Linked DNA regions of Homo sapiens: region 1 is linked to region 2. The links come from fine-mapping of genetic effects on gene expression. A gene starts in region 2. The other region holds a variant in brackets. All regions are shown on one strand. Distances are from middle to middle.

Region 1 (4,389 bases), 27 kb before region 2:
TTTTTTAAAGACAGGGAATCAACCTGTGACATCCAGGCTGGAGTGCAGTGGCACAATCATAGCTCACTACAACCTTGACTTCCTGGGGTCATGGGCACCTCCTACCTCAGTCTCCCGAGTAGCTGGAAGTACAGGCCTGTGACATTGGACTGTGCTAATTTTTTAGTTTTATATATTATTATTACTTTGTAGAGATGGAGTCTCACTTTGTTGCCCAGCCGGGTGTCCAAGTTCTGGCCTCAAGTTTTCCTTCTGTCTACACTCCCAAAGTACTCAAATTACAGGCATGAGTCACTGTGCACAGGAGGTAAGGACCCCACATCAGGACCTCAGGTAGTTTTGAAACACAAATACGTAAGATCCACAAGCAGGACTATTGGCTAGAGACAGTGGGGTCACCTGAAGAAATTTTCTTTGACCTGAATAGCAACTTCTCACCCAGGTCACTGGGATCCCGGACTATGGCACTGTTCCAGGCAGGCCTGGTTATCCTGCTTGAGGCAGCAATCCTCTTGAGCCTAGTGAAATGCAACTGGCTGTACCTCAGTGATGTCGCGCTGAGATTCTGCCAGTCAAGATATTACTTCAATCTCCTGAGACAAGCCTCTACCTCCAGATCCAGGAAGGTCAGTGCACACATAAATTGACTAGCTTTATTAAAGGGGATACTGGGTTGGTGGGGAGACTGCAAGACAGCACTCAAGTGGGGTTGAACTGGCCCAGTTGCGTCTGACTTCTCACTTGTAGTTCCCAAGAATGAATATAAAATGTGCTAGAAAAGCAACATACTGAGATGAAGGACAGGATCCTGTCCATCCTTACCAGAGAAGGACAGGATCCTGTCCATCCTTACCAGAGAAGGACAGGATCTGTTCCAGTCCCCTCAGAACAGGATGCCCTTCATTGTTTTAGGCCAACGTGCCATGCATCCCTGGAGCATGAAACCTGGGCCAGGCCGCCTTTCAGGCTCCCTCAGCTGTGATGCGGGAGGAACACACACGCAGACTGCATCTGAACTGGGTGGTTTTCCTGAGCCTTCGGGAACAGCATGCATGAACCCCAGGCATCTGCTGTCGTTGCTGCCAATCTGTAACAAATTCACTTCATGTAACTTACTGTGTGTTCATGGGACTATCTCTCACTCAACTCCAACACGTTGGTAACCAGTGTGCAGTGAACCTGCTTCACAAGTAAGGCTGTGAAGAAATTGTAATCTTCATACATTTGGTGGGAATCAAAAATACTGATGAACGCTTAGGCCCGGCTCATGCGGGAGCATAGTTTTGGTTGTGAGGGTTACAAGTTGGGAACAATCCCAGATGTAGAAATATCCCACCATGGGTGAAACTTCCTGAAAGATCCAGAGGTGCTCCAGGTCCAGATGCAGCTGCTGGAAGCCATGTTTGGCCCAGACTGATCTCAAATCCCTTACATCGAGCAGGTGAGCAAGGTCATGCTCGTGCTGAAGGCTCTGGAGTCTTCAGACCTCACCGAGGTTGTCGGTTACGGCTTCTATTTATACAAGTGCCAGACCAAGTGGATGCCCCAGTCCATGGCTGAGTGGCACTGCCAGTGCCAGGAGCGAGGGATGCTCAAACTTGTGGAAAGCATGAATGCCGTCAAACTACGCCCTTGGGTGAAGTGAGCCAGCTTCCAGCCAATGTGAAGAAGGCCAAGATGTAGAGATCAGGTTGTGGCCATAGCTGGAATGGTAACTCCAGATTGGTTTAAACACTGCTCCAGCCTGATGAATTAAAAACAACAACAACAAAAAAAAAAAAAAAAAAAAAAAACGCCGGGTGCAGTGGCTCATGCCTGTAATCCAGCACTTTGGGAGGCTGAGGTGGGTGGATCACCTGAGGTCAGGAGTTTGGGAGCAGCCTGACCAACATGGAGAAACCCCGCCTACTAAAAATAAAAAATTAGCTGGGTGTGGTGGCACATGCCTGTAATCCCAGCTACTTGGGAGGCTGACGCAGGAGAATCGCTTGAACCGGGGAGGCAGAGGTTGCGGTGAGCCAAGACTGCACCA[T/C]TGCACTCCAGCCTGAGCAACAAGAGCGAGACTCTCTCTCAAAAAAACAAAAAAGAAAAAAAGAAAAGAAAAGAAAAAACCATCTGTCTAGGGGTTTCTGCCCTTGTTCCAAGTCTTGAGAATATCTCTTTTGACAGTTGCCAATAAAAAAAGTAATTTTTCAGAAAAACAAGACTGCAGATGGTATGGAAAACAGTGTCATTGGACACTTCCTCAACTCAAGATCACCCACCAATTTAAAAAGGATCATCATACATTCTGGTGAAAGACATAAAGATTCCCCCAGGGGTAGGGGATGAGGCAAGGAAGTCCACTTTTATCACTACTATTCCACACAGTGTGAAAAGTTCCAGCCAGTGAAATAAAGGAAGAAAAGGAAATAAAAGTGACAGGCTGGATGTGGTATCTGAGGGCTGTAATAGCAGCACTTTCGGAGATTCATGAAGAATCACAGAACTGTGGACCCATATTAGATACATGACCTACAGAATTGTAAAAGAATAGATTTTTGTTCTTTTAAGCCAATCACCGTGTGGTAGCAATGAGGAAGGAGAGTGGCTTGAGGACAGGAGAAAAAAAATAGTGTACTCTCAGAAAATATGATGGTTGCACAGGTCATCCCCGTAACCTGTGTTACTGAATATGTTCTCATATCCTCAACCCTGTAACCTGTGTGACTGGCTGTGGCAAAGAGGAGTTTGCAAATGTGGTCTAGTTAAGGATCTTTAGATAGACATTATCCTGAATTATATGGTCAAAGTGATAGAATCACAAGGTTCAATATCAGAAGGATGCAGGTAGACCCTGAGGGACGGACAGTTGTGATGTGTTGAAAATAGAGGGATAAAGAGATTTTATCTCGCCTGTAAAGATGGAGGAAGTGGGCCGGGTGTGGTGGCTCATGACTGCAATCCCAGTACTTTGGGAGGCCGAGGCGAGCAGATCACGACGTCAAGAGATCAAGACCATCCTGGTTAACACGGTGAAACCCCGTCTCTACTAAAAATAATAAAAATATTAGCCCGGTGTGGTGGCACGCGCCTGTAGTCCCAGCTACTTGTGAGGCTGAGGCAAGAGAATCGCTTGAATCAGGGAGGTGGAAGTTGCGGTGAGCCAAGATCGTGCCACTGCACTCCATCCAGGGACACAAGAGCGAAACTCCATCTCAGAAAAAAGATGGAGGAAGTGGACCATGAGTCAAAGGATGTAAGTGGCCTCTGGAACCTACAAAGGGTAAGGAAAAAAAATTCTTGCCTGGAGATTCATGAAGAATCATAGAACTGTGGACCCATATTAGATATGTGACCTACAGAATTGTAAAAAAATAAATTTTTCTTGTTTTAAGCCAATCACTGTGTGGTAGCAATAAGAATCTGGTGAAATAATTTTATGTAGAAAATTCCAAAAAATCTACAAAAATCTCTAAACAAGGGAAATGTAAAGGTGGCAAGGTATAAGATCAACATACAGCAATCTTTTTTTTTTTTTTTTGAGACGGAGTCTCACTCTGTCGCCCAGGCTGGAGTGCAGTGGCACGATCTCGGCTCACTGCAAGCTCTGCCTCTCAGGCTCATGCCATTCTCCTGCCTCAGCCTCCAGAGTAGCTGGGACTACAGGCGCCCGCCACCACGCCCGGCTAATTTCTTTTTGTATTTATGGTAGAGACGGGGTTTCACCGTGTTAGCCAGGATGGTCGCGAACTCCTGGCCTTGTGATCCACCCGCCTTGGCCTCCCAAAGTGCTGGGATTACAGGCATGAGCCGCCGCGCTGGCCAACATACAGCAATCTTGTATATTTCACTGGCCAGGCATGGCAGCTCATCCCTGTAATCCCAGCACTTTGAAAGGCCAAGGCAGGTGGATTGCTTGAGCTCAGGAGTTTGAGACCAGCATGGGTAACATGGCAAAACCCTGTCTCTACAAAACACGAAAATTAGCTGGCCGTGGTGGCACGCACCTGCAGTCTCAGCTACTCAGGCAGCTGGGGTGGGAGGGTCACTTAAAGCTGCAGGACAGAGGTTCCACTTAGCTGACATCGCTCCACTGCACTATACCTGGGTGACAGAGTAAGACGTTATTTCAAAATAATAATAATAATAATAATAATCTAGCATATTTCTTTACACATGAAAGCTGGTATTAAAAATAAAATACCATGTATGATTGCTCCATTAACAATATCGGTCAGCTGGGCATGGTGGCTCATGCCAGTAATCCCAGCACTTTGGGAGGCCAAGGCGGGCAGGTCACCTGAGGACAGGAGTTCGAGACCAGCCTGGCCAACATGGTGAAACCCCATGTCTACTAAAAATACAAAAATTAGCCTGGAGTGATGGCACGTGCCCGTAATCCCAGCT
Region 2 (4,389 bases):
CACTGTGGAGGAGGGATGCCGTGGCATCAGGAGAGAGTGAATGGGGCTGGCCTGTGGCACACAGTCTCAGCATCAGCAGCAGCCAGGAGCAGGGACAGACAATTCCCAGTCACTACTAAGAACACAGTCCTAGAGACAGGTGAGTGGGCCTGTTGGAAAATTCTTCCCCTTACTGTTTGAGACAGGAAAAAACCACACTGTTTTTACTACTCTCACACCCAAAGGAGAATCCCTCACCTTTAGTGATCAAAATGTGTCTGTGGTTGTTCCTACACTGACCAGTTAAACTGAGTAAAATTACAGAACACCCAGGTGCTGTCTGACGAAGAACTGCTTGTTGGTGACAAGTAATTCCCATATTACTTTGGTGACCAGAGATGAGGCATTCTGTGTTGAGCGCTCTTTATTGTGTTCACTGTGAACACAAAAACACACTGGTTTTTCCTAACTTATACACTCACACCCTAGTCCATCCCAAGAAAAGAGAAGAGTGCCTTATAAATAGTGTTCCAATTCTCATCTTCATGTGTGGTTTTTTGTTTTTTGTTTTTTGAGATGGAGTCTTGCTCTGTCACCTAACCTGGAGTGCAGTGACACGATCTCGGCTCACTGCAACCTCTGCCTCCCAGGATTAAGCGATTCTCCTGCCTCAGCCTCCAGAGTAGCTGGGATTACAGGCGCAGGCCATCAGGCCCAGCTAATTTTTGTATTTTTACTAGAGATGGGTTTCACATGTTGGCCAGGCTGGTCTCAACTCCTGACCTCAAGTGATCCGCTCACCTCAGCTTCCCAAAGTACTGGGATTACACGTGTGAGCCACAGCTCCTAGCCTCATGTGTTCTAAACAAATTTTATATTATAGAAAAATTAATATGTCACAATTCAATCATAATTTCCAATCAACTCACCACTCATCTGTAACCAGGGTCCCCCTCTTTCCTCACTACTGTTTCCCTGCCTCATTCTGTACATATCTCTCATTCTCATCTTTTTTCCTAGCTCTTTTTTTCTCTATTTTCCCCTAGGATTCTGTTCATTTTGAGTCCCTCCTCTTCTCTTTGTCCCATTCTTCCCTCTATTCCTTCTCTCCCACCTGTTCTGATCCATTTTTACAACTTGTTTCACCTCTTATTCCTCTTTCTGCCCAATCTTTCATTGTCCCTAATCTCCATATATTTCTGCCTCTTTCCTCCCACATCTCAGCTCCCCTTGGGGTCTCCCTGTTAAATTCCATCTTCGATATTACACACCCCTGTCCCCACTCTCTGGCACCCTTAGATCCCAGGCCTCCCCCTGCTGTGGTTCTCCCTGTTCTCCTTGTGACCAGCTGCCCCCTCTGGCTGTCCCAGCACCACGCTGCTCTGTCTGACCTGGCTCCAAATCCCTCCTCCTCTCCCCCCTCTGTCTGAGAAGCCTTCCCTATCTTGTTGAATTTCGTCTTTCTACAGACCCAGGTTTGTCTATATTTTTACAGTTACTTTTCTCCCCTGCTATTTTCTCGGCACCTTCTTTCACTGTGCCTCTGCAAACCCCTCACTCACCTTCTACTTTGCCTTCTGTTAATGGGTCTCTCATTCTTCATTTCTCTTTCAAAATTTCTCTATTTCCTCTGCCTCGTTCCCATCTCTTTTTCTCCACACATTCACAGGGAGGGGATTGGAATAAGATGCCCACTTCCGGAAGAGCTCATTTTCTGTGGGCTGGAAACTGGCTCGAGAGAACACTGGATGTCAGGAGACTGAAGTCACCCCCCACACTCGGGGTCAGGAGAACCGGTGGCTGGAAAAGGGAGGCCTGGGGAACAGAGGGTCCAGATTAAGGAGCAAAAAGGCAGGAGTGGGTCAGGAGAGGGGTGGAGTCTGCAGAAACCAGGTCTGGGCAGAGGACGAGGCCTCTCGTGCCCTGTTGGGGCGCTGAGCTCTAGGGGCAAAGAAGGGCGAGGCTAGGGGAACGGAGAGTGAGGATTTTACGTGGTGCGGGGCGTGTGTAGGGGTTACTAAAGGATTTGAAGCAGGTAAACCCCACGATAGGAGGTGTCTACGTGGGTAAATGACAAAAAGACCGGGCACACGACCAGCCTCCAAGCGATTTTAACACGCAGAAAGCGACTCCCAGACTCTCAAAGGATGTCTGAATTTACTCGGGGTGGAGGGAGCGGTGCCGGGATTTCAAGGTCTGCATGCCCCTCAGCTCCCGGGTATAGAAGCAGAGAAGAACTGGCTAGCCTAGACTTAACATAGACAAAGGGAAACTCACGCACTGCTGCGAAAACAGTTTCTCCCTGCAATCGGCTTCCGGGTCTACCGGAAACTGCGCTCTAGGCGTTCGCCCCCCGCGGTCCGCTTCCGGGTTTGCACGAAATTGCGCGCGCATCCTAGAGGCCGGACTGGCTGGGACCAGGGCGGGCCGGGACAAAGCCTGGGCCGGGCCTGCGCTTCCGTTCGCTTGACTGGCTGCGCTTGTTTTCAGGGTTTTGGTCTGAAAACGGATCTTACCTGCGCAGAGCAAAATCGGTTGTAGATTATATCCACGAAAATTCCTTCTATTAAAATGAATTTCAAGTCCCACCTACCCTGGAAGCAGAAAGAGAGAGAAGAGAGAGAGTAAAGAGAAAGAGAAAAGAAAGAGAAGTTGAAAAAGAGAAAGAAAACCAAGAAAGAAAGAGAAAAAAACCGAAAATAAATGGACAAGAAAGAAAAGTAAGGAGGGAAGGGAAGGGAGGAAGGGAAGGGAAGCTTTAGGAATTGAATTAACACACTTTGGAATTGTCTGTGAAGGGGATGATGCAAGCTAAAATGTGAAATGCAAAACCCTGCCAGGGTAGAATGTTCTATTTCATGCCAGTGCCCATAGAAGATAAATACTTTTCATTTATCTTCCCCATTCACTCTAGACGGTGAAGGTCAACCCTGTGCTCAATTCCAGAGACTTTCCTAGGGACATCGTGTTGGGCATGGAGGACTAAGGCCAGTGTGAAGATAAGTCACCGATTCTTTAAAAAAAAAAAGCCAGTAACTTATAAAAATAGCCATAAACGACGTAGTTTTTTGTTGTTGTTGTTGTTTTGAGACAGCGTCTCCCTCTGTCCCCCAGGCGGGAGTACAGTGGCAGGCACTCAGCTCACTGTAACCTCCGCCTCCTGGGTTCAAGTGATTCTCTTGCCCCAGCCTCCAGAGTAGCCACCACGCCCGGTCCAACTTAGTTTTTTAATACTTTTTAAAATTTTAAGACAGGGTCTCTGCCACCGAGGCTGAAATGCAGTGGCGCAATCATAGCTCACTGCAACCTTGACTTCCTGGGGTCCTGGGCAGGTGACCCCCTGTCTCAGCCTGCCGAGTAGCTGTGAGTAAAGGCCTGTGCCTCTCCACTGTGCTAATTTTCTACTGTTTGTTGCTTTGTTTTTAATAGAGATGTAGTCTGGTTTTGTTGCCCAGGCTGGTCTCCAGCTTCTAGCCTCAAGCAGTCTTCCCATCTGCTCCTACCAAAGTGCTCGGATTATAGGCATGAATCACCTTGCATGGGAGATAAGGACCCCCACATCAAGCCCTCAGGTTATTTTTGAAACACAAATACATAAGGCCCACAAGCAGGCCCATTGGCTGCAGACAGTGGGGTCACCTGAAGAACTTTTCTTTGATCTGAGTACCAACTTCTCACCTAGGTCACTGGGATCCTGGACTACGGCACTGCTCCAGGCAGGCCTGGTTATCCTGCTTGAGGCAGCAATCCTCTTGAGCCTAGTGAAATGCAACTGGCTGTACCTCAATGATGTTGCCCTGAGATTCTGCCAGTCGAGGTATTACTTCAATCTCCTGAGACCAGCCTCTACCTCCAGATCCAGGGAGGTCAGTGCACATGTAAATGGACTAGCTTTATTAAAGGGGATATCTGGGCCAGGCGTGGTGGCTCACGCCTGTAATCCCAATACTTTGGGAGGCCGAGGAGGGCAGATCACCTGAGGTCGGGAATTAGAGACCAGCCTGGTTAACATGGTGAAACGAAGTCTCTACTAAAAATACAAAAAAAAAAAAAAAAAAAATTAGCCAGGCATGGTGGCACACGCCTGTAGTCCCAGCTACTCGAGAGGCTGAGACACAAGAATTGCTTGAATCTGGGAGGTGGAGGTGCAGTAAGCCAAGATTGCGCCACTGCACTCCAGCCTGGGAGACAGAGCGAGACTCCGTCTCAAAAAATATAAAAATAAAAGGGATATCTGGATTGGCGGAGAGACTGCAGGACAGCATTCAAGTGGGGTTGAATTGGCCCAGTTGCATCTGACTTCTCACTTGTAGTTCCCAAGAATGAATATAGAATGTGCTGGAAAAGCAACATCCTGAGAGGAAGGGACCGGTGAGAAAAGGACAGGATGTGTTCCAGATCCCCAGAACA

What was found. PIP is the estimated chance that this variant, and not a neighbour inherited with it, causes the effect.
Region 1: its variant is the best candidate, but not a certain one, in a credible set for the expression of ZNF528 in putamen (GTEx, PIP 0.63).

Annotation. Positions count from the first base shown.
Region 1 is chr19:52,423,116-52,427,504 of GRCh38, reverse strand. It overlaps the pseudogene DPPA5P1. Among named protein-coding and RNA genes, the nearest start is that of ZNF534, 3.8 kb to the left of the region's middle. The variant T/C (reference allele first, on the strand shown) is at 2,033.
Region 2 is chr19:52,395,772-52,400,160 of GRCh38, reverse strand. It overlaps ZNF528 (zinc finger protein 528), which reads right to left and starts at 2,312. Exons shown (of 7, transcript NM_032423.3): 1 at 2,257-2,312; 2 at 1,542-1,794. It overlaps ZNF528-AS1 (ZNF528 antisense RNA 1), which reads left to right and starts at 2,404. Exons shown (of 7, transcript NR_125345.1): 1 at 2,404-2,699; 2 at 2,894-2,966; 3 at 3,409-3,551; 4 at 3,662-3,796. It also overlaps a transcript of ZNF880 not described here. RefSeq lists an enhancer at 1,801-3,000.